2 separate regions of the Homo sapiens genome follow, and region 1 is linked to region 2. Evidence: fine-mapped expression QTL. A gene starts in region 2. The other region holds a variant in brackets. All regions are shown on one strand. Distances are from middle to middle. Region 1 has its middle 20 kb from the start of MIR3610. Region 2 holds the start of RAD21 (RAD21 cohesin complex component).

Region 1 (12,011 bases), 21 kb before region 2:
ATTTATATTCTTTTTTTCCCTTCAAACCCTTCTCCCTCCCACTCTTCCTGGCCTTTGGTAACCAACAATCTTCTATCTTCATGAGATCCACTCTTTTAGTTCTCACATATGAGTGAGAACATGTGATATTTGTCCTTCTGTGCTTGGCTTATTTCACTTAACATAATAGCCTCTAGTTCCAACCATGTTGCAAATGGCAGGATTTCATTGTTTGTTATGGCTGAATAATTATGTGTATATTCTACATTTTCTTTATTCATTCATCCATCCATTGGCACTTAGGTTGATTCCATATTTTGGCTATTGTGAATAGTGCTGCAATTAATGTGGGAATGCAGATATCTCTTTGATATATTGATCTCCTTTTTCTTGTATATATACTCAGTATTAGAATTGCTGGTAGTTCTGTTTTTAGTTTTTGCGGAAGCTCCATACTGTTGTCTATATTGGCTGTACTAGTTTACATTCCCACCAAGAGTGTACAAGGGTTCCCCTTTCTCCACATCTTTACCAGCATTTGTTATTGCCTTTTTGATACAAACCATTTTAACTGGAATGAGATGATATTTCATTGTGATTTTGATTTGCATTTCTCTGATGATTAGTGATGATGTATTAATTCATTTTCACACTGCTGATAAAGACACACCCGAAACTGGAAACAAAAAGAGGTTTAATTAGACTTACAGTTCCACATGACTGGGGAGGCCTCAGAATCATGGCAGGAGGCAAAAGACACTTCTTACATGGTGGCAGCAAGAGAAAAATGAGGAAGAAAGAAAAGCAGAAACCCCTGATAAATCCATCAGATCTCGTGAGACTTATTGACTATCATGAGAATAGCATGGGAAAGACCAGCCCCCATGATTCAATTACCTCCCCCTGGGTCCCTCCCATAATGCGTGGAACTTCTGGGAGATACAATTCAAGTTGAGATTTTGGTGGGGACACAGCCAAACCATATCATTCCACCCCTGGCCTCTCCAAATCTCATGTCCTCACATTTCAAAACCAATCATGCCTTCTCAACAGTCCCCCAAAGTCTTAATTCATTTCAGCATTAACCCAAAAGTCCACAGTCCAAAGTCTCATCTGAGACAAGACAAGTCTCTTTCGCCTATGAGCCTATAAAATCAAAAGCAAGCTAGTTACTTCCTAGATACAATGGGGGTACAGGTATTGGTAAATATAGCCATACCAAATGGGAGAAATTGGCCAAAACAAGGGGTTCCAGGGCCCATGCGGGGAAGTCAAATCCAGCAGGCAGTCAAATTTTAAAGGTGCAAAATGATCTCCTTTGACTAGGTCTCACATCCTAGTCAAGCTGATGCAAGAAGTGGGTTCCCGTGGTCTTGGGCAGCTCCACCCCTGTGGCTTTGCAGGGTACAGCCTCCCTTCTGGCTGCTTTCATGGGATGGCGTCGAGTGTCTGTGGCTTTTCCAGGTGCATGGTGCATGCTGTCAGTGGATCTACCATTCTGGGACCTGGAGGATGGTGGCCCTCTTCCCACAGCTCCACTAGTCAGTGCCCCAGTAGGGACTCTGTGTGAGGACCCCAACCCCACATTTCCCTTCCACACTGACCTAGCAGAGGTTCTCCATGAGGGCCCTGCCCCTGCAGCAAACTTTTGCCTGGGCATCCAGACATTTCCATACATCTTCTGAAATCTAGGCAGAGGTTCCCAAACCTCAATTCTTGACTTCTCTGCACCCACAGGCTCAACATCATGTGGAGGCTGCCAAGGCTTGGGACTTCCACCCTCTGAACCCACAGCCCAAGCTGTACATTGGCCTCTTTCAGCCATGACTAGAGCAGCGGAGACACAGGGCACCAAGTCTCTAGGCTGCACACAGCTTGGCAGCCCTGGGCCCAGCCCACAAAAACACTTCTTTCTCCTAGGCTTCTGGGCCTGTGATGGGAGAGGCTGCCATGAAGGTCTGTGACATGACCTGGAGACGTTTTCCCCATGGTCTTGGGGATTAGCATTAGGCTCCTTGCTACTTATGCAAATTTCTGTAGCTGGCTTGAATTTCTCTCCAGAAAATGGGTTTTTCTTTTCTATCACATTGTCAGGCTGGAAATTTTCCAAACTTCTATGCTCTGTTTCCCTTTCAAAACTGAATGCTTTTAACAGCGCCCAAGTCACATCTTGAATGCTTTGCTGCTTAGACATTTTTTCCGCCAGATACCCTAAATCATCTTTCTCAAGTTCAAAGTTCCACAAATCTTTAGGGCAGGGGCAAAACCCTGCCAGTCTCTTTGCTAAAACATAACAGGAGTCACCTTGGCTCCAGTTCCCAACAAGTTCCTCATCTCCATCTGAGACAACCTCAGCCTGGACCTTATTTTTCGTGTCACTATCAGCATTTTCATCAAAACCATTCAGCAAGTCTCTAGGAAGTTCCAAACTTTCCCACATTTTCCTGTCTTTTTCTGAGCCCTCCAAACTGTTCCAACCTCTGCTTGTTACCCAGTTCCTAAGTCGCTTCCACATTTTTGGGTATCTTTTCAGCAACGCCCCACTCTACTGGTACCAATTTACCATATTAGTTCATTTTCATGCTGCTGATAAAGACATACCCAAAACTGGAAACAAAAAGAGGTTTAATTGGACTTACAGTTCCACATGGCTGGGAGGCCTCAGAATCATGGCAGGAGGCAAAAGGCACTTTTTACATAGTGGCAGCAAGAGAAAAATGAAGAAGCAAAAGTAGAAACCCCTGATAAACCCATTAGTTCTCACAAGACTTATTCACTATCATGAGAATAGCATGGGAAAGACCAGCCCCCATGATTCAATTACCTCCCCCTGGGTATTTTGGGTCTCTCCCACAACACGTAGGACTTCTGGGAGATACAATTCAAGTTGAGATTTTGGTGGGGACACAGCCAAACCATATCAAATGCTGAATATTTTTTCATGTAACTGTTGGCCATTTGTATGTCTTCTTTTGAGAAATGTTAATACCAATCTTTTGCCCATTTTTAATTAATTTTTTTGCTATTAAATAGTTTGAGCTTCTTATATGTTCTGGTTATTAATACCTTCTCAGATGGATAGTGTGCAAATATTTTCTCCCATTCTGTAAGTTGTCTCTTCACTTTGTTGATTGTTTCCTCTGCTGTGCAGAAGCCTTGTAGCTTGATGTAATCCCATTTGTCTATTTTTGCTTTGGTTACTTGTGCTTTTGAGATCTTACAGAGTAAACCTTTGCCCAGGCCAGTGTCCTGGAGATTTTCCCCCAATGTTTCTTTCTAGTAGTTTCATGGTTTTAGGTCTTAGATTTAAGTGTTTAATCCATATTGACTGAATTTTTGCATATAGTGAGAGATAGAGGTCTAGTTTAATTCTTCTGCATATGGATATCCAGTTTTCTAGCACTACTTACTGAAAAGACTGTCCCTTCTCCATTTTATTTCTTGGTGCCTTTATCAAAGATGAGTTGGCTGTAAATGTGTGTATCTATATCTGGATTCTCTATTCTGTTCCGTTGTTGTATGTATCTATTTTTATGTGAGTACCATGATGTTTTTGTTACTATAAATTTATAGTAAGCTTTGAAATCAGGTAGTGTGATACCTTCAGTTTTGTTCTTTTTGCTCAGTATTACCTTGGCTATTGAGGGTCTTTTGTGGTTCCAGATACATTATAGAATTTTTTTTTCTGTCTCTGTGAAGAATGTCATTGGTATTTTGATATGGATTGCATTGAATCTGTGCATTGCTTTGGGTATTATTGTCAATTTAACAATATTAATTATTATATTAATTTCATTTCTTTTCAGAATTTTATAGTTTTCCTTGTATTGACCTTGCACTTCTTTGGTTAGATTGATTCCTAGGTATTTGATATTTTTGTAGCTATTGTAAATGCAATTACCTTCCTAATATCTTTTTCAGATTGTTTACTATTTGTATATATAAATGCTGCTGATTTTTATATGTTAATTTTGTATCCTGCAAATTTACTGATTTTTTTTTTTTTTTTTTTTTGCCTAGTCATTCCAGTCAAGACTTCCAGTGTTATGTTGAAAAAAAGTGGTGAAAGTGGGCATCCTTGTGTTTGTTCCATTCCTTAGAGGAAAGGCCTTCAATGTTTCTCCATTCAGTACAATGTTAGCCATGGGTTTGTCATATATGGCCTTTATTATTTTAAGGTGTGTTCCTTTTATACCCATTCTGATGAGGATTTTCATCATAAAGAATGCTGAATTTTATCACATGCTTTTTTGGCATCTATTGAAATAACCATACGGTTTTTGTTCTTGATTCTGTGAATGTGATGTGTCACACTTATTAGTTTGCATATGTTGAGCCATCCTTGCATCCCTAGAATAATCCCACTTGATCAAGATGAATGATCTTTTTGATTGTTGTTGAAATTGTTTTGCTAGTATTTTGTTCAGGATTTTGTGCATTTATGTTCATCAGTGATATTGGCCTGTAATTTTATTTTTTTCTTCTTGTGTACTTGTCTGGTTTTGGTTTCAGCATAATGCTGGCCTCATAGAATGAGTCTGGAAGTGTTCCTTCCTCTTCAGTTTTTTTGAAGAGTTTGAGTAGAATTGGTGTTAGTTTATTATCTTTAAATGTTTGGCAAAATTCAGCAGTGAAGCCATCAGGTCTTGAAATTTTTATTGATGAGAGGTTTTTTATTATGCCTTTGATCTCATTACTCAATACTGGTTTGTTGAGGTTTTCTATTTCTTCGTAGTTCAATATTCATCAATTGTACATGTCCAGATATTTGTCCATTTCTTCTGGGTTTTCCAATTTGTTGGTATATAGTTGTTCATAATACTGTCCACAGATTCTTTGTATTTCTGAAGTCTCATTTATTATGTCTCCTTTTTCATTACTGAATTTATTTATTTAGGTCTTCTTTTTTTCTCAGTCTAGCTAAAGGTTAGTCAATTTCCTTTTCAAAAAACTAACTTCTTGTTTCATCTATCTTCTGTAAATTTTGTCTCAATTTTATTTATTTTGGCTCTGATCTTCATTATTTATTTCCTTCTACTGATTTTGGGCTTGGTTTCTTCTTGCTTTTCCAGTTTCTTCAGGTGCACTGTTAGGTTGTGTATTTGAAGACTTCCTACTTTTTGATAAATGTATTTATCGCCATAAACTTCTCCCTTAGGACTGTTTTTGATGTATCCCACAGATTTTGATATGTTGTATTTCCATTTTTATTGGCTTTGAGAAATTTAAAAAATTTCCTTCTTAATTTCCTCATTGACCCATTGGTTTTTCAGGAGCATGTTGTTTAATTTTCATGTGTTTTTGTATTTTCTGAGGTCCCTCTTGCTACTGATTTCTAGTTTTATTTCATTATGGTCAGAAAAAAACACTTGATACAATTTACATATTTTTTAATTTGTTCAGACTTGCGTTGTGTCCTAACATATGGTCTATCCTGGAGGATGTGCCATGTGCTGATGAGAAGAATGTGTATTCTGTAGCAGTTGGGTGAAATGTTCTATAAATTTCAGTCAGGCCTATTTGATCTGGTATATAGTTTAACCATGGTGCTTCTTTGTTGATTTTCTGTCTGGATGATCTGTCCATTACTGAGAGTGAGATGTTAAATATCCTATTATTATTATACAGCAGTGTATCTCTTCCTTTAGATCTATTAATAT[C/T]TGCTTTATATACTTGGAAGCTCTGATGTTAGGTGCATAGATATTTATAATTTTTATATCCTCTTGCCAAATTGACTCCTTTATCATTATATAGTGAACTTCTTCGTGATTTTTTATAACCTTAGCTTTTTACTCTAGTTTATCTGTTATAAGTGTAGCTACTTTTGCTTTTTATTGGTTTCCAGTTGCATGGAATATTTTTTCCACCCCTTCACTTTCAGCTTATGTGTGCCTTTATAGGTGAAGTGAGTTTCTTGAAGGCAGCATATAGTTGGGTCTTGTTTCTTTATCAATTCAGTCACTTTATGACTTTTAATTGGAGAATTGAGACCATTTATAGTCAGTGTTATTGATAAGTAAGGACTTACTACTGCCATTTTATTGCCTATTTTCTGGTTGTTTTGAGACTACTGTCTTCCTTTCTCAGTCTTTTTTTTTTTCCATGTTTAAGTGATTTTCCCTGGTAGTATGTTTTAATTTCTTCATTTTTATTTTTGGTGAATCTATTATAGGTTTTTGCATGGTTACCATGAGGCTTACAAAAAAAAACCATAGATATCACAAGTTATTTTAAACAGATGACATTTACCTTAGATCACACAATAAAGACCAGAAATAAAGGCAAAAAACACACATACGAAAAAATCTACACTTTAACTCTATCACCCTCATATTTTGAGTTTTAGTTGTCTCAATTTACATTTTTTACATTCCATATCTTTTAATAAGTTGCTGTAGCTATTATTGTTTTTGACAGATTTGTCTTTTGGGCTTTATTATCAGAGTTGTGAGTAGATTGCACACCACCATTATAGGAATAGAGTATTCTTGGTTTGTCTACGTACTTAATTCTACCAGTGGGTTTTACACCTTGAAAAGTTTTCTTTTTGTGCATTATTTTTTTTTCTATTTCAGACTGAAGATCTCCCTTCAGCATTTCTTGTAAGACAGATCTGCTGGTGGTGAATTCTCTCAACTTTTGCTTGTCTGGGAAAGACTTTATCTCTCTTTCATAGTTGAAGAATAATTTGGCTGGGCACAATATTCTTGGATGGCAGATTTTCTTTTCTTTGAACACTTTGAAAATGTCATTCCATTCCCTCCTGGATACATCTATGCCTTTGTATTGAAGGATTAATTATTTTTTCAAATTTCCTCTGACAGGCTTGTTTTGTTTTTTTAGTGGATATATTTGCCTAGAAAATCTTTACCACTATGTTGCAGCCTTCTTTTTGGCCCTAGGTGTGTCTTAAGTCCAGGTTCACCTTGGCTTTGGTAAATGATCAGAGTGATGTCCGTTTTGAATGGGTGAGGTCCTAAAGGGACCTGGCACTGTTAGAAGGCTAGCTAGGAGTTTACACCCAAGGAAACTATGAAACGTACCTTCTATGGTGTGATGCTCCTGAACAACCATTCTGATTTGATGTCTTCTTTTGCCAAGTTGCAGAGCAGAGTTTCCAGGGCTGGGGGTGGTAGTTCCACTTCCCTCCTTTGTCTTCACCTGTCCTCTGTGAAGTTTCTCCCTTCAGGCAGCCACAGTGCTTCCCTTGGGTTAAGACAATAACAGGTCTCCTCCCAAGATATCCAAGATGGTAGAAAAGCTGGTTGGCCATCTCAATCTCACTCCTTCCCTTGTAGAAACCATGAGTTGGAGAAGATTTTCCAGGTGCTAGTTGCCAGGCAGAATGGGGGGATGGGGTGTCATGGATGTGAAAGTCTGATTCTCCCACCATCTGCTCAAAGTACTCTCATTTCTCTGTGTCCCCAGGATCTGTCTCATCCTCATATTTGATTCTGGGTTGTTGCTGTATATTTGTTTTTGGTTTTCTGGCAAGGAGGTGGGGTAGTAAGACCAGCTTGCTTCTATGCCACCATTTAAACTGAAAGTCTAAGATCACTTTGTCTCAGACAAATACTAATCTTCTTAAAATGGTGTATAATGTGTGAGAATGGAGTATTTTGTCAAAGGAAAACAAATGTAAATCTCTATCTCCTACAGAAATGAGTTTATTTTCTCACTTTTAGCCTTCCATTGAAAAAAAGCAGTGTGTCAAAGCCAGCCTACTTATTATTCCGCACCCTTAAAACATATTTCAGTGATGAATCTGACAAGCTATACTCAGATTTTTTTCAGCTATTATAACTGTGCTATTATAAAAATGAAGCCTGTAAGAATCTTTCAAAAGGTAGAAGTCAATCATGTAACTCATTAATTCTACATGAAAAAGTCACATCAAAGACAGACTTTTTTTTATGATTAAAAAAAGTCTTATAAAAAAAGGAAAAAAGGCCAGGCATGGTGACTCATGCCTGTAATCCCAGCACTTCAGGAGGCTAAAGCAGGTGGATTGCTTGAGCTCAAGAGTTCAAGACCACCCTGGGTAATATGACAAAACCCTGTCTCTATAAAAAAAAATACAAAAAATACTATCTGGGTGTGGTAACATGTGCCTGTAGTCCCAGCTATTTGGGAGGCTGAGGTGGGAGGGAGGTGGAGGTTGTAGTGAGCCATGATTATGCCACTGCACTCCAACCTGAGCAACAGAGTGAGACCCTGTCTCCAAAAGAGGAAAAAGAAAAACCAAACCAGATAATGACATTGTTAATAGCACGGATTATTATTTAAAATAACAGTAGCTTCAAATATAGTGATATTGGTAGCTCTGTCCTTTCATTTAAAGGAGCATATATTCATTTAAATTATATCAAAATCTTTGAATATTTTAGTTTAAAATACTTATACACTGTCTATATAGAAAACCAAGCAATAGTTACTTAGGAAATTTCTACTTTGAAATCAATGTGAATTTCTGACAGCAGGCTCATTCCCTCACTCACTCCACTCCTTCCATGCTGGCCTCTTTGCTTTTGCTTGCCTTCCAGGGAATCTCCTGTCTCAGAGCCTTTGCATTTTCTCCTCCCTCTCCTGGACACTTCTCCCCTAAAGACTCACATGGTTCGTCCTCTCACCTTCTTCAGATATTCACATAAATATCACCTTCTGAAGGAGGTCTTCTTTGACTCTGCTATGGTTTGGATACTTGACCTCTCTAAACCTCATGTTGAAATATAATCCCCAATGTTCAGGGTGGGGCCTAGTGGGAGGGGTTTGAGTCATGGAGGTGGATCCATCATGAATGGCTTGGTGCCATCCTTGAGGTAATGAGTGAGTTCTAGGTAATGAGTGAGTTCTCGCTCTATTAGTTCCTACAACAGCTGGTTGTTAAAAAGAGCCTGACACCTCCTTCTTTCTCTCTCACTTTTTTTCTCACCATGTGATCTCTGTACATGCCAGCTCCACTTCTCCTTCTGCCACAAGTGGAAGTAGTCTGAAACTCTCACCAAAAGTAAATGCTGACATCATGCTTCTTGTACAACCTGCAGAACCATGAGCCAAATAAACCTCTTTTTTAAATATATAAATTATCAAGCCTCGGGTATTCCTTTATAGCAACACGAACAGACTAAGGCCGATGCTGTCAATTTTCTGTAATCCCATTTCCTACACTACTTTTCGTCATTGCATTTATCCCTTTCTAATGTATTACGTTTATCTCTTTCTAATGTATTACATATTTTACTTCTTTACTACAATTCAGTAAATATGTATTGCATTAATCAGTAAATAAAAGGAAGGAAAGTAGGGATGCCAGTGACATACATTTTGCTTGAATGGATTTGTATGCACCATGTGACTCTGAGTCTATAATGCTGGTGGCAGCTTCTTACTCCAGTTCATAGCTAAGGTGGTCTGACGCTGGAATCAAGAGTTTGGGATAGTGTCTTCCTGACTCCCCAGCTTTCTGAAGGTTGCAGAGGTAGCCCTTTCTTTGGTGAGCTGGTTCTTGGTTGACATTCTGGAAGTCAATCCCAGAGACATAGCCTAAAACCAGCTCTTCCCCATGATTAACCTCTTTCTTTTCTGATTATCCTAATGTTTCCTGTCACCTACAACTGAGCCCCAACTAATAAAGTATTGTATCCCCATTTCACAACAAGAAAACAAAGTATCAGGAAAATAAAATGACAACAATAAGTCAAGCCCAAGTTTATATGATCCCACAAACAAAATGAACTGTAAGATATTACAAAAGATATGGATGAATAGCCAGACAGAGTACATTCATAGGGCAATGTATGTGGAAAGGAAAGTGAAATTTCCATGCCCTCTGTGGGCATATCACCCTCCAGACACCTCCACGTGTTCAGCAATCCAGAAGCCTTTCTGAACACTATTCTTTTGGGTTTTTATGGAGGCTTCATTACATAGGCATGATTGATTACATTATTAGCCATTGGTGATCAACTTAACCTTCAGCCTTTCTCTGCTGCTTGCAGGGATTGGGGAGTAGGGTTGGGGAGGCTGAAACTCCCAACTCTCTAATCATGCCTTGGTCTTTCCAGTGACCCCCATCCTGAAACTACCTAGGTGCTCTTAGCCACTGTTATCTCAGTAACATACAAAGAAAAAAAACTCTTATCACTCAGGAGATTCCAAGGATTTTAGGAGCTGTACTCCAGGAAATGGAATGAAGATCAAATATGTATTTCACAACATCACAGAACAATCCTAGCTCCCTCTGCCAATGGCTCAGAATATTTAAAACCTACTCAGTCCAAGAAATTCCTCTTCTAATCCTAAGAAACATAGATTTATGGAACTAATGATAAATGTGTTCTTTCCAGTCCAGCTCTGTTTCTGGAATTCTTTGCATTTCCTACCAATGCCTGTTAAGAGTGTTCCCAAAAACAATAAAATCTTGCCGCTCAATAGTTGAGTGTTTGGCATAATGTATAATGTATGATATTTTAGGAATTTTCAAGAAACATTGCAGTGGAAAACTCAAATTCAGTCACAAAAGTGACTCTTTGCTTATAAAACAGTCATTGTGGGTTTACAATCTGTATTAGAATCAAATCTTCTTTCATCTGCAACTGGCTTGTTTTCCTTTTCTGGTTAGTCAGTTGATGACGTGTGATTTGGGACAATCAGGGGCTGAGAATCTGGCGGTTACTTCTAGTCTTTTGCACAATCTAAGGCAACTAAACCTCTTTCCATGTTTAGTTATTTTTTGTGTATTTGTGGAGTTTGCTTTTGAAATGGAAATTTTTTTGAGAAAACCATCTCAGAAAAAACATGGACAGGGAAAATTCTATCCATTATTTACATAACATCAAACAGACAAGCCAAGGACAGGCTGCTTCTCTGAAGAACTAAATCTGGAAACAGGAGATTTCACAATGTAGAAAGCAAATGAAGTTGGAGAGAGCAGAGGATGAATAGGCCCGATATGTTTTCTTTCAGAAATATTTGAAAGTTAGCAATGCAAAGTTATTAAACAATACATGGGTTAATTTTTTGTACTTTTATCACACTGTTTCATTGTGAGTGCAATCTCAGCTCACTATAGCCTCTGCCTCCCAGGCTCAAGCAATCCTTCCACCTCAGCCTCCTGAGTAGCTGGGACCACAGGCATGCACCACCACAACCGGCTATTTGTTTGTTCATTTTGTATTTTTGGTGGAGATGGGGTTTTGCCACATTGCCCAGGCTGGTCTCGATCTCCTGAGCTTAAGTGATCCACCAGCCTCAGCCTCAGCCTTTCAAAGTGCTGGGATTACAGGCATGAGCCACTGCACTTGACCCTGTGTTTTTTCTATTTATTTAAAGAGTTATTTCATAAGTTTTTAAAAAGTGGTCCAAAAAAGTACAGAAGGAATGAATAGTCCCTTCAAAGTTATAAATTAGATAATGAGAAATTGTATAAAAGTTAATAAAAGAGAGATTCTCTCTTTGCAATTGCAACATTAAATCTTCCACTGCTCAAATGGAAATCAGATCCTAACAACAAAGAGACTGCCCTTTAAGAACTGCAGTTTCCTATTATTTAATCATTTATTAGATTTAGCAGAGAGGGAGACTAGAGAAAGAGAATAAAATCTTTGTTACCAATATATATTATGTTTTTAAGGATTTTATATTAGAGAATTATGGCACCAGAAAAAAATCTGTTACATAAAATGTCATCCTCAATATATTATGTAGTAAGTATAAATAAGTAGGATAACTCCCAGAATGCACCAGGAAGATTCAGAGCAGAAGAATTGCTATGAGTGTGCAGGGGTTGGGGAATGACCCTCTGTGTAATCAGGCATGTATAAGGTGAAAAAGAAATTTCTAGGACGAAGTCTCATGTTTGGATCTGTAAGATTTGCTAAAGGGCCAAAATTGTACATGCTTTGACTAATTATTAAATTCCACAGCCAGACACACTGCCCCCCCACACACACACACACATGATTGTTCAATTAATATCTGTCAAACAGCTTGATACTCATAAATGCAGATGCACATATTAACTCCTTTCTTCC
Region 2 (12,011 bases):
ATCTCATATAATGTTTATGTCTGATTATGACATTTCTTCCTTGAATTTTGTCCTTAAAATGCATTCCCTTTTTGACCAAAACCCCTTGTAAGGATACTGTTGGCACTAGAAGGAAAGCCAGAATCTACAGTTTTTAAAGTCACTTTCAGTCCATTTTTCTTTGCTTAGCCCAAAACCTTAAAAAGGCTATTCACTCTTTCTGAACTTTTCTTTGATCATCATATTTTATACTTTGATTTTTATTTAAATAAAAATTTTTAAAAACCTGGTGCACCACATGTTTAATACCCATCCTCCCGAACATTGAAATATCTATTTTCTTGTCTTATTCTTCTCTTCACCTAATTCCTCCTACTTACTATAATAATAATAATACTTTTTTTTTTTGAGACTCGAGTCTCCCTCTGTCGCCAGGCTGGAGTGCATGACCTCAGCTCACTGCAACCTCTGCCTCCCAGGTTCAAGCAATTCTCCTGCCTCAGCCTCCCTAGTAGCTGGGACTACAGGCATGTGCCACGACTCCCAGCTAATTTTTGTATTTTTAGTAGAGACGGGGTTTCACCATGTTGGCCAGGATGGTCTCGCTCTCTTGACCTTGTGATCCACCCACCTCGGCCTCCCAAAGTGCTGGGATTCTATAATTATTTTAATGTTATAGAGAATCCTGTTTTAAAAGTTTGCCAGTTCAGAGGAGCAAGTCTACAACAGTATATGTAAATCTTAAACAAATCTGCTACTGTAAGTTTTATCATCTTTTTCTATAACAGTATATTTTCTCTCTTTTTTTGCCATAACAGTTTTTATCTCACAAAAAAAACTCTCAGTTGTGTGTGTGGGGGGGGTGTCATCATAAAATAACGTGATATAGACAGAACGCAGCTGTTTTTATAGATATACTCAAGACAGTGGCAACACCCAGTTTCTCAGTGATTTCCCCAAATCATACAAGTCATCAACTGACTAATCAGAAAAGGAAAGCATACCATTTGCAACTGAAGAAAGACAAAATCTGTAACTGAAATCTGTCCTCTCATGGTTTTAGTCAAACAAATTCACAATTACTAATTTTGACAAATGCACATTCATCAGATAAGTATTTCCAGGGAGAAGAGATACTGCAGCTAACTCCTGCAATAAGAAATTTAACTTGACATTTTAATACAAGGAGGTGGATGGGTATGTTGATAAGAGGAGACTCCAAGCCAGAATAAAACATACAACTTGTTCAAAGAATCAAATCCAGCCATTTAGGGGATTAGGACTGTATGTGAAGAAACTATATTAAAATCTACAAATGGGAAGGCGGGCTCAGAGTTGGGAGCTCTGAGTAAGAATAAATAGTTCAAGAGAAAAGAAATGTAGTACTTTGGGAGGTAACTTGGGGTAGGAGAACAGCATGTAAGAGAAAGATGGAGAGAGACAGAGAAGAGAGAGAGAAGACAGAGAGAGAGAGGAGAGAGAAGACAGAGAGAGAGAGAGAATAATTTTCAAATATAAACATAAAACAGGATATAGTCAGAATGGGGCAGAGTATCCCGGTGTTTACTGATGTTCTTATAAATTGAATATCTGATAAATATTTCCCATACCTTGCTTGATATCTTATTATTCAGAAAGCAGATAAAACTAGAGTAATACCTGCCATTTATTAATTACTCAGTTCCAAGCACTATACTAAGCACTTTGTGTATGTGATCCTATTGAATTATTTCAAACATCATGACAAGTATTACCCTCATTTTATTAATAAAGAAATCAAAGCTCAGACATTAATTGTACATGTTAAAACAGCTGGGAGGTAGAAGAGAAGAATTTGAACCCAAAGCCCATGTTCATAACCATCCCCCAAAAGTAGAAAAATAAATGTCTTAAGAAAAAGGTAAGCCTGTTGATTTAAATATTAGAATCAGACTTGCTGCTAGAAATGAGGAAAAGAGAATTGTTTTTATTCAAATACAGATGAAAAATATATGGTTCCATGAACAAAAACTCTAAAAGCTAATGTAATATAAGAGAGACAAGAAGTGGCAATGCATATTCACCTGGCCATAGTTTGAAGCTGGGATTGATTTAAACTGAAATTTAATATGAACGACAACGTCTTCACCATGCAACATGGTTGTGTGATTCTTAACCTGACAGGAGACTTTTCCCACATGATTAGTTTTGAGGTCATTTAGCAGCTGATACACCGAAATTATTTTGAAGTGAAGAATTAAATTGTTCACTGGCAGAAATCTAATTTCTGTTGCAAGGAGTTTAATTGTTAATGAGCTTGTATTTTTTTTTTTTTTGAGATGATGCAACAACTGCCACTGTTGAGTTTGCTTAAAGCCACACCAGCAGGAAGGATTTAAGTGCTTTGAGCATCTAATCTATATTGGTCGAGGGAAAGCATGCTTAAAATGTTAAAAGTGCTTGTACTCCTTCACTCCCCAGCTTGGGATTTTAACAACTATCCTTAATGCCAATTTCTTAAAGTCTCCATTAAAAACAAACCAAAAGAACATAAAATATTTGGCTAACTACAACAGAAATTCACTTGATAAAGCTTTGAGCTGTGGCCAGTATGGCCACTTAGCTAATGGACTCCAGCCAGTGAGACGAACCTTGCCCCAACCCAAAAACAGTGGACCCACAGTGAGTGGAGCACAAGACTGTCCACTTTCTTATCCATCTCCTATATCAGCATAAGAAGGGTAAAAGTGAGGTGTTCTGTGTGTCATTAAAATCCTGGAAGTGTCCAGAAGTAGTGGTTGCTGACAATGAGGAGTATATGGACTTAAATGTCTGCTTTTCCTGTGTGTTTTACTTTAAAATGAAAATACATTCAGAAACTGGACACAAAATTTCTTTTTAAAATACGTTTTTATTATTATGGATTCATAATAGTTGTACACAATTATAAGGTACGTCTGACATTTCAATACAAGCATACAATGTGTAACAAACCATGGTAATTGGGGTATCCATCACCTCAAGTATTTATCATTTCTTTGTGTTAGAAACATTCCAATTCCACTCTTTTAGTTATTTTGAAATATATAGTAAGTTATTAACTATAGTTTCCCTATTGTGCTACCAAACACTAGACTTTATTCCTTCTTTCTAATTGTATTTTTGTACCAAATCTGAGGGGGCAGATTTTGTACTCATCTGCCCCCTCCCCACTACCTTTCCCAGGCTCTGGTAACCATCATTCTACCTTCTATCTCAATGAGTTCTTTTTTTTTTTTTTAAGCTCCCACATATTAGTGTGAACATTCACACTAATGTCTTTCTGTGCCTGGTTTATTTCACTTAATGTCTTCCAGTTCTATCCATGTTGCAGCAAATGAAAGGACTTTTTTTCTTTTTTATGGCTGAAAAATATTATCTTGTGTATGTGTACCACATTTTCTTTACCCATCTATCCACTGATGGACACTTACGTTGATACCATATCTTGACAATTGTGAATCTTGCTGCAATAAATGTGAGAGGGCAGATACCACTCTGATGTACTGATTTCCTTTTTTTTTGGGGGGGGGTATTTACTCAGGAGTGGGATTGCTGGCTCATATGGTGGCTCTATATTTAGGTTTTTAAGGAATCTCTATACTGTTCTTCACAGTGCTGTACTAACATACATTCCTACCAACAGTGTACGAGTGTTTCTCTTTCTCCACATCTTTATCAGCATTCATTATTGCCTGTATTTTGGATAAAAGCCATTTCAACTGGGATGAGATTATACCTCATCCTAGTTTTGATATGCATTTCTCTGATGATTAGTGATGTTAAGCATTTTTTCATATCCCTGTTGGCCATTTGTATGTCTTTTTTGAGAAATAACCATTCAGGTCTTTTGCTCAATTTTAATTGGATTATTTTCCTATTATATTGTTTGAGCTCCTTATATATTATGGCTATTAATTCTGTGATAGATGAGTAGTTTGCAAGTATTTTCCCCCACTTGATGGGTTGTCTCTTCACTTTGTTGTTTGCTTTGCAGAAGGTTCTTAGCTTGGCATGATCCCATTTGTCCATTTTTGCTTTGCTTGCCTATGCTTTTAAGGTCTTACTAAGAAATATTTGGTTCTGGAGCATTTCCCTAACGTTTTCTTCTAGTAGTTTCAATAGTTTCAAATCTTAGATTCCAGTCTTCAAGCCATTTTGTTTTGATTTTTTTAATATGGCAAAAGATAGTGATCTGTTTCATTCTTCTACATATAGTTATCTAGTTTTTCCAGAACAATTTTTGGAAGAGACCATCCTTTTCCCAACGTATGTTCTTGGCAGCTTTGTCAGAAATTAGTTGACTGTATATGTATTGATTTATTTATAGGTCCTCTATTCTGTTCCGTTAGTCTATGTGTCTGTTTTTATGCCAGCACCATGCTGTTTTGTTTACTATCACTTTGTAGTATAATTTGAAGTCAGGTAATGTGATGCCTCCAGCTTTATTCTTTTGCTCAGGATTGCTTTGGCTATTCTTGGTCTTATTGTGGTTCCATATAAATTTTAGGATTTTTTTCCTCTTTCTGTGAAGAATGTCATTGATATTTTGATAGGGATTACATTGAATCTGTAGATTGCTCTGGGTAGTATGGAAATTTTAACAATATTGATTCTTCCAATCCATGAACATGGAATATATTTCCATTTTTGTGTGTCCTCTTCAATTTCTTTCATCACTGGAAAGATCTCTACAATAAAAACAAAAGTAAATTTCTTCGTGGTACAAGTAAGTCTTTTAAGATAAGAAATTTTAAGATTCCTCCCAAGCAATACTGAAAATTTCCAAAAGGCAGTTATTATCTCTGTTATATTAATCATTATATCCAGAGCCCAACGTGTAGCAAACAGAAGACCCTCTATAATATAGGTTGACTGAATAAATGAACCTCTATATTTTATGGAATTAGTTTGAGGTTTTTATGTTACTTTCATCCCTATAGAGCCATAAAATGAATTTTTTGGTGGGGGCACACAAAATTGCACCACGACAGCTTTTTTCTTTAAAACAAGCACAAGAATAAAGCTAAACGCAAATATTCACCGCACTGGAAAGCACTGCGCGTGCGCTATCTTACGCTATTGGCTAACACCGCAACTCTCAAAGACCCTCGCAAGAGAATCACCTTTGCGCTTGCTCAGTTGTGGACTCCACAAACAGAGGGCGGGTTCCAAAGAAAAGGAAATAGTCATTGCGCCTGCGCCGCTCCTTCTGGGGGGAGGGGGGGGCTTGGGCTGGCTGCGCAGGCGCACAGGTACCATTTTGACCGTAAACATCCTGCCGATTTGAACCGAGGATTTGGGCGGCAGGAAGAGCCGCGGCGTAACGGCAGCCATCTTGTTTGTTTGAGTGAATCGGAAAGGAGGCGCCGGCTGTGGCGGCGGCGGGAGCTGCTCGGAAGCTACACCTCGCAAGGGCTCCCCCCTTTCCCCACCCCCTCCCCCGACCCTTTTCCCCTCCCCGGGCCACCCAGCCCGCCCAACTCCCAGCGGAGAGCAAGGTAAGAGACTCGGCCGACCCCTTCTTTTCCTCCAGCTCCCTCCCCCCACCCTTTCCCCGCCGCTCTGCCGTCGGGGAGCCGGACTCCTGGGGGCGGGAGGGCGAGGGAGAAGGCAGCCCTCGCCGCGCCCACGCGTGCTGCCACCCTCCCGGCGCCCAAGCGGCGGCGCCACCCGCCCAGCCCCCTTCGCCCCGGGCCCGCCCTCGGCCCGGACCCATGCAGCTTGGGCCCGCATCATCGCTTGTTCGGTAACAAATGATTCTGATCCATTCTGAGATCTACAAAGGCTGTTACCCTGCAGGTCCATCTCACGTCCCCCAGGAGGCCGGGGAAACCCTGGGCTGCGGAGGGAGGGGAGGAGGTTTGAACGAGCCCGCTCTGGGGACCGGGCCGCCTACTCCGCGGGTAAAAATGGCTGTCTGGGAGGAGGCGGTGGCGGGCCCGGCGCCCGCGGTGCCAGCCCCGGGAGCAGCAACCTTCCGCCGAACTCGGGTGCGGGGCTCAAGAAAGTGCGGAGCTGGTGGGGCTGGGCGGGGTGGGGCGGGGGGTCGGCGGGTGCCCCTCGGCCAGTGACTGCTGCTGCCCTCCCGTTTTAAAAAGATAATTTTTACGTTGGGAATGCTGAATATTTCACAGACGCGTGGAAAAAGAGACGGAGGGAAGTTGCTTCTTTTTCCAAGGATATTTGCATAATTGGTTTTCCCCTGAACTTTTCTGATCATTCTTTAAAGTGATTAAGGATATCGGGTGTTGTAGAGACGCTCTGGGGGAGGTGTGTGTTTCTGATAAATGCTTGATGCCCTTTTCGTCGCTGAAAAAGGCTTTTTGCGAATGATCCGCTTTGATAGTGTGGGGTGACACTGTCGGGTTGTGCTGCCAGACTTAGCGGCCTTCTTCAAATTTGTAAGAGGGAAACCCTGGGGGATTTACTTGGTCACTCTGATTTGTTAGTGTCTTCAGCGTGAAAAAAAAAACAGCGTTTGTGCGAAGAGTTTCTGGGAAAGGCTTGTGTTTATCGGCTTCTTTTTGCAAGGGAAAGTTAATCTTTGTTGTCATTATACTGGTTAGAAGAGTAATTGGTTTTCAGGCAAAAATTTCTATTTTCTTAAATTGGGTGTAAATGCCAGCGGGCAGTGCGAGTCTATAGAATTTTGGAGACAGGCAGGAGAAGGTTTCTCAAATCGTGAAGTCATTAAATACCTTTGTTAATGTCGGAGGCAACTAATTATTTTTGGAAAGGCATTGATGAGGACATACGCCATATCTGATCTTCAAATAAGTTAACAGTTTGTATAGTTGAGGTGACAGCAGTGCATAACTAATAGACATAGTGCTTTTTTTTATACACAAGTCAGAATTACAAAAGAATTTCTGGTGAATTATTTTGTGAAACATACAAATTCTAAGAAACGCTTTTACAGTTTGGTACAGAATGGAAATTTTCTAATTCTTGAGAAATAAGGTTGTGTTTTTAGTTTAAATGTCAAACCAGAGTTGTTAGGCATGATTATACTGGCTGGTTAATGTTTTGCTGCAAGATTGTCTTCAGAGTTACTTTTCGCATCAGCAGTGGCACTATGTTAGGTGTGCCCTTGTATTTAATTTTCATAATCTTTTTTGATGAATATTATCCCAGTTTATAGTTGAGAAGTAACTTATTCACCGTTACAAAACAACTGAGCAAAGAGGGAGCTTAATTTGAACCTACGACTGTCTGATTGTAAAACTCTTGGTCAAAGGATGTTAGAACCAAAACAGAGGAGATTTCTAGTGTGCAGGGTTAGAAATATCTTCAGAGATCCTTCCCCCTACTCCCCTGAAGAGGTAGCTCCGTTCTGATCTGAGTTAGGTATTGACGTTTTCAAAGGTTAGGTAAACCACCAGATTTCAACCTTTCAGGTTTTCATAGTAGGGAAACTGAACTGCATAAAGGTTAGGCAGCTTAACTGCTAGTTAATGACAATAGCAGGATTATGTCTTTACTTCTGAGATAGTAGTTTTTACTTTGAATAGGTGGTGTACATTTATGTCCCGAGTTAAAATATGTGTGTGTGTGTGTGTGTGTGTGTGTATGTATATATATATATCAAACAGTACAAAAAGGTAGGCCTCACTTGCCCTGCATACCTACTTTCCAGAGGTAACCAGTATCACCAGTTTCATGTGTACGCCACAGGTATTTTAAGCTTATTCAAGAACTCGTAAATATATAGAGAAAGAGCATTCTTTTTTAAAACTCCAACTTTTTTGCACTTAACCTGGAGATTTTCCATGTTAGTACAAATGTTGTATTCTTGTTTAAAGTTGTACTGTACAATTGTCCCTTGATATTAAAGGGGAATTGGTTCCAGAACCAAAACCACGAATGCTCAAGTCGCTTATATGAAATAGTGTAGTATTTGCATATAACCTACTAACATCCCATATACTTCAAATCATCTCCATTTATGATATTACAATGTAAATGCTATGTTAATAGTTAATATAGTTGTTATAGTTTTTTATTAGTAGTATTTTTTATTATTGTGTTTTTTTGTCCCCCCCTCCAACAATTTTTGATCCTGGGTTGGTTTAGTCCATGGATGCAAGAAGCCATGGATAAGGAGGACCGACTATATTCCGTTGTTTGGGTTTATTAATTTTTCATATCACTTATTGATGGCCAAGTAGGTTATTTCGAATGTTCTGTTCTGCTCTGGCAAGGCAGCATAGTGTTGTAGTTAGAAGTGTGGATTCTGAAGTTCAAGTTCCACTTCCATTAAATACTAGTGACATTTACTTATCTTCATCTGTTTTCTCCATCTCTAAAATGGGCCAGTAATTTACTTCTGTAGGACAGTCATGAAGAGGTTGGATACATAAAACACGTAGTGCTTAGTAAGTTTTCTTAGGATTTTTTCGTGTTTGGTTTTTTGGTTTTGTCTTTAGTAATATGCATCTCCAAGTATATCTTTTGTATTGATTACTGAAAGTGCAAGTTCTGGCTAGAAAGTGTAAGTGAAATTTTTATAAAATGTTGTCATATTGTCCTTCAGAGAGGACAGTACCAATTTACACAACCGCAGTCCTGCCATGCTTTCTAATGAGTGAAATATTGGTAATGACTGATACTATCCTAGAAGCATGAGCCTCAGTTTGATTCTTTGAAACAGTCTTAAATTGCCATTTTTTGTATTCTTGAATATGTTCTAAAATAGCAATCTTTCTGCTGTTTCACATCAGACTTTAATTTTTTAGGGTCAATTGAAAAAAACTGCTTGCCGCTTTAGAAAAAAATGATTCTCAAATCATGAAATGCTAAGTTGTGCTCTGGTATCAAATGCAGATTTTCTGCACAGGGTTTTCATAAAGGATTTAGCAGAATATAGAATCTTCAAAATCTAAACAGATTAATCGACTTTTTTAAAGATTGGATGAAGTTTGGTATTATCAAGGAAAAAAAAATAGGCTTAAAAGGCAATTATAATTACACTTTCTCCTTATTCAGATATACACCAGGAGTCGATCCACCACTGCTCCTTTGGCTTCCTTTAGTTATTAGAGTGATTTCCTCTTGCTAATTGTTTCCCACATTAATTTTAGCATCACTCTGCCTTCCTTAGCCCCATCCTATGCCAAACAGGCTTCTGTTTAGGAATCTCTGCCTCTGCATAGCTGGGATATTTTAGGCACGGTGCTCTGACCAGCAGCTGAAGTGCTGGCCAGGAGCTACTGACACCTGTTGAAAAATGCCAGTAGTTTTAATTTTTAAAACGTCTAAAATTTTTTACATATGCCAATTATGAGATCACTTGGTGGATCTTACTTACTTATTCATTAAGCACATATTTAGTAATTGTCATGCCACAGATAGTATTCTAGAAGCTTAATATTAAGGAGTTTTTTGTTTAGGATACAGTTGCTTGCTTCCATAGTGGAACTTGGGGCTTGTCCTGTACAACAGCGATTATATTTCTCAGAACATGCTGCTATGTTGGATTTCTGTAAAGTTCTCTAGATTTTATTTATAACATAGTAGGAGCAGCTTAAGTTTTGTGATAACATTTTAAGGCTTGAAGTAGGCACTGATTTGAAACATAGGAGGCTCTCTTCCGGTATGGGAAGCATGTTTTAATCTATAAAATAACAAATGGCAAATAAAGCACCTTTGAGGTGTTATTTAATGCTCGTACCTTAAGAATATTTTGTCTGAGTTCTTAGTATAGAATATAGTATTTCTTCATTCTTTAATTTCTTTTTTTTAAAAAATAAACACGGGGTCTTGCTATATTGACCAGGGTGGTCTGGAACTCCTGCCCTCAAGCATTCCTCTTACCTTGGCCTCCCAAAGGGCTGGGATGGCAGGCGTGAGCCACCACCGCTAGCCAATTTCTTCCTTCCTTAACTCCAAATTTGGGAGGAAGAGTTTACAACATTAGACAGTTGACAAAGCCTGGTTTTTTTTCTTTTGAGGAAAAGTTTTTTTAGTATGAATTAATAATCCTTTGGGAACATTAGATTCAGAGAATGAGAATTTCAAGACTCTTTACTCTTAAGTGATGGAAATGGAGATAAAGCAAACCTGACTGCAGTAGTCTTGCACCACAGCCCCCCACCCTCCAAAATATTTTTGACATGTAAGAAATCTGTTGCTTGTGATACGCGTAACTAAAATATATTTTCTCTACATCATGGGAAAGAATTGGCACATTTTTAATTGAAAGTACAGTAAGCAAAATTCTTTAAGATTTACAGACTGTGAAAAAATGAAAAATAATTACTCTGTATCTTTTAGAGAAAAGCTAATTCAAGAGATTTTAGTCCCACCTGCAGTGTAAGAGATCCAGCTTCTCTGTGTCTTTCAGCATTTGATGTTGCCACTATTTTTTAATTTAGCTCTTATATTAAGTGTGTGGTGATAATGTTTTTGGCCTTAATTTGTATTTCTCAAATGCCTAGGATAATTGAACATCTCATGTTCTTATTTGTCATCAGTAAACCTCTTCTGTGAAATTTCTCTTCTTTGGCTCACTTTTTTTTTTCTTTTTATACAGAGTCTTGCTGTGTCACCCAGGCTAGAATGCAGTGTCGCGATCTCAGCTCGCTGCAACCTCCACAGCCTGGGTTCAAGCAATCCTCCTGCCTCAGCCACCTGAGTAGCTGGGATTACGGGCACATGCCACCACACGTAGCAGTTTCTGTGTTTTTTAGTAGAGACAGGGTTTTGCCAAATTGTCCTGACTGGTCTTGAACTCCTGGCCTCAAGTGATCTGCCTGTCTTGGCCTGCCAAAGTGCTGGGTTTACAGGCATGAGCCAGCCTGCCTGGCCTCTTTTGCTTACTTTCTAATTGGAGTTTTTTTTTCTTCTTACCCCTGAAGTTTTAAGAATTCTTTACATATTCTATATCTGAGTTCTAGTCAGATGTGTGGTTTACAAATATTTTTTCCCCAGTCTATAGCTTGTCTTTGCATTTCTTTCGTAGAGCAAAAGTTTAATTTGATAAAGGCGAGTTTATTGAGCAAGAACTTTTCCTTCATGGGTTGTGTTTTTGATGTGTCAAAATTTTTACCAAGCTTTAGGTACTGAAGGTTCCCCTCTGCCATTTTTTAAAAGTTTTGTCTATTTTGAATTTTTATATAATGTGTGAGATTTAGGTGGAGGGTTTTTTCCTTGCCTTTTTTGTTTTGTGGGGGGTGTGTGCGTGCGTGCGTGCATGTTTTCTGGTCTTCAGATCGTATTTAATCACTCCAGCACCATTTGTTGAAAAATGTATCATTTCTCCATTAGATAGCTTTTGCATCTTTGTAAAAAAAAAAAAAAATTAGTTGAACTTAGTTGTGCGGGCTATTTCTGGGTTCTCAGTTCTGTTACATTGACTGTGTTTCCTCTGCTAATACCAATCTTGAGTATTATAGCTATATAGTAAGTCTTGAAATCAAATAGACTAATTTTTCTCACTATTTTTCAAAATAGTTTTAGCTTTTTTAGTTTATTTGCTTTTCTATATAAATTTGATAATCTTGCCTATAAATATAAAAAAACTCATTTTGATAATTGTATTAAAGATTCTTTAAAAACTAAACATATACTTAACAATACTTGTCAGCAGTCACATTCGGGACAGTTGTCCTAGAGAAATGAAAACTTAATGTTCACCAAAAGTCTGTACATGAATATTTATAGCAGGTTTATTTGTAATAGCCAAAAACTGGAAGCAACTAAATGTCCTTCTATAGGTGAATGTCCAAGCATATGGTGGTATATGAATCTCACGGAATGCTGTCCAACAGTAAAAGGGAATATACTATTGATAAACGTAACAACTTGGATCACAGAAGCATTGTGCTAGATCCAAAAAGCCATTTCAAGAAGTCACATACCATATGATTCATTTATATAATTTTCTCAAAACAACAAAATTAAGTCCAGTGTGGTGACTCAATGCCTGTAGTTCCAACTACTTGAGAGGCTGAGGGAGGAGGATTGCTTGAGCCTAGGAGTTCAAGGCTGCAGTGAGCTGTGATCACATCACT

Evidence for each region.
Region 1: its variant is fine-mapped to the expression of RAD21 in whole blood (TOPMed, PIP 0.94).

What each region holds. Positions count from the first base shown.
Region 1 is chr8:116,888,932-116,900,942 of GRCh38, reverse strand. No RefSeq gene overlaps it. Among named protein-coding and RNA genes, the nearest start is that of MIR3610, 20 kb to the right of the region's middle. The variant C/T (reference allele first, on the strand shown) is at 5,640.
Region 2 is chr8:116,868,098-116,880,108 of GRCh38, reverse strand. It overlaps RAD21 (RAD21 cohesin complex component), which reads left to right and starts at 5,333. Exons shown (of 14, transcript NM_006265.3): 1 at 5,333-5,498. RAD21-AS1 (RAD21 antisense RNA 1) reads right to left here and starts at 5,685. Exons shown (of 2, transcript NR_033886.1): 1 at 5,124-5,685; 2 at 3,241-4,688. MIR3610 (microRNA 3610) reads left to right here and starts at 5,309; the gene lies at 5,309-5,381. RefSeq lists an enhancer at 5,336-5,385 and silencers at 5,496-5,815, 5,976-6,025.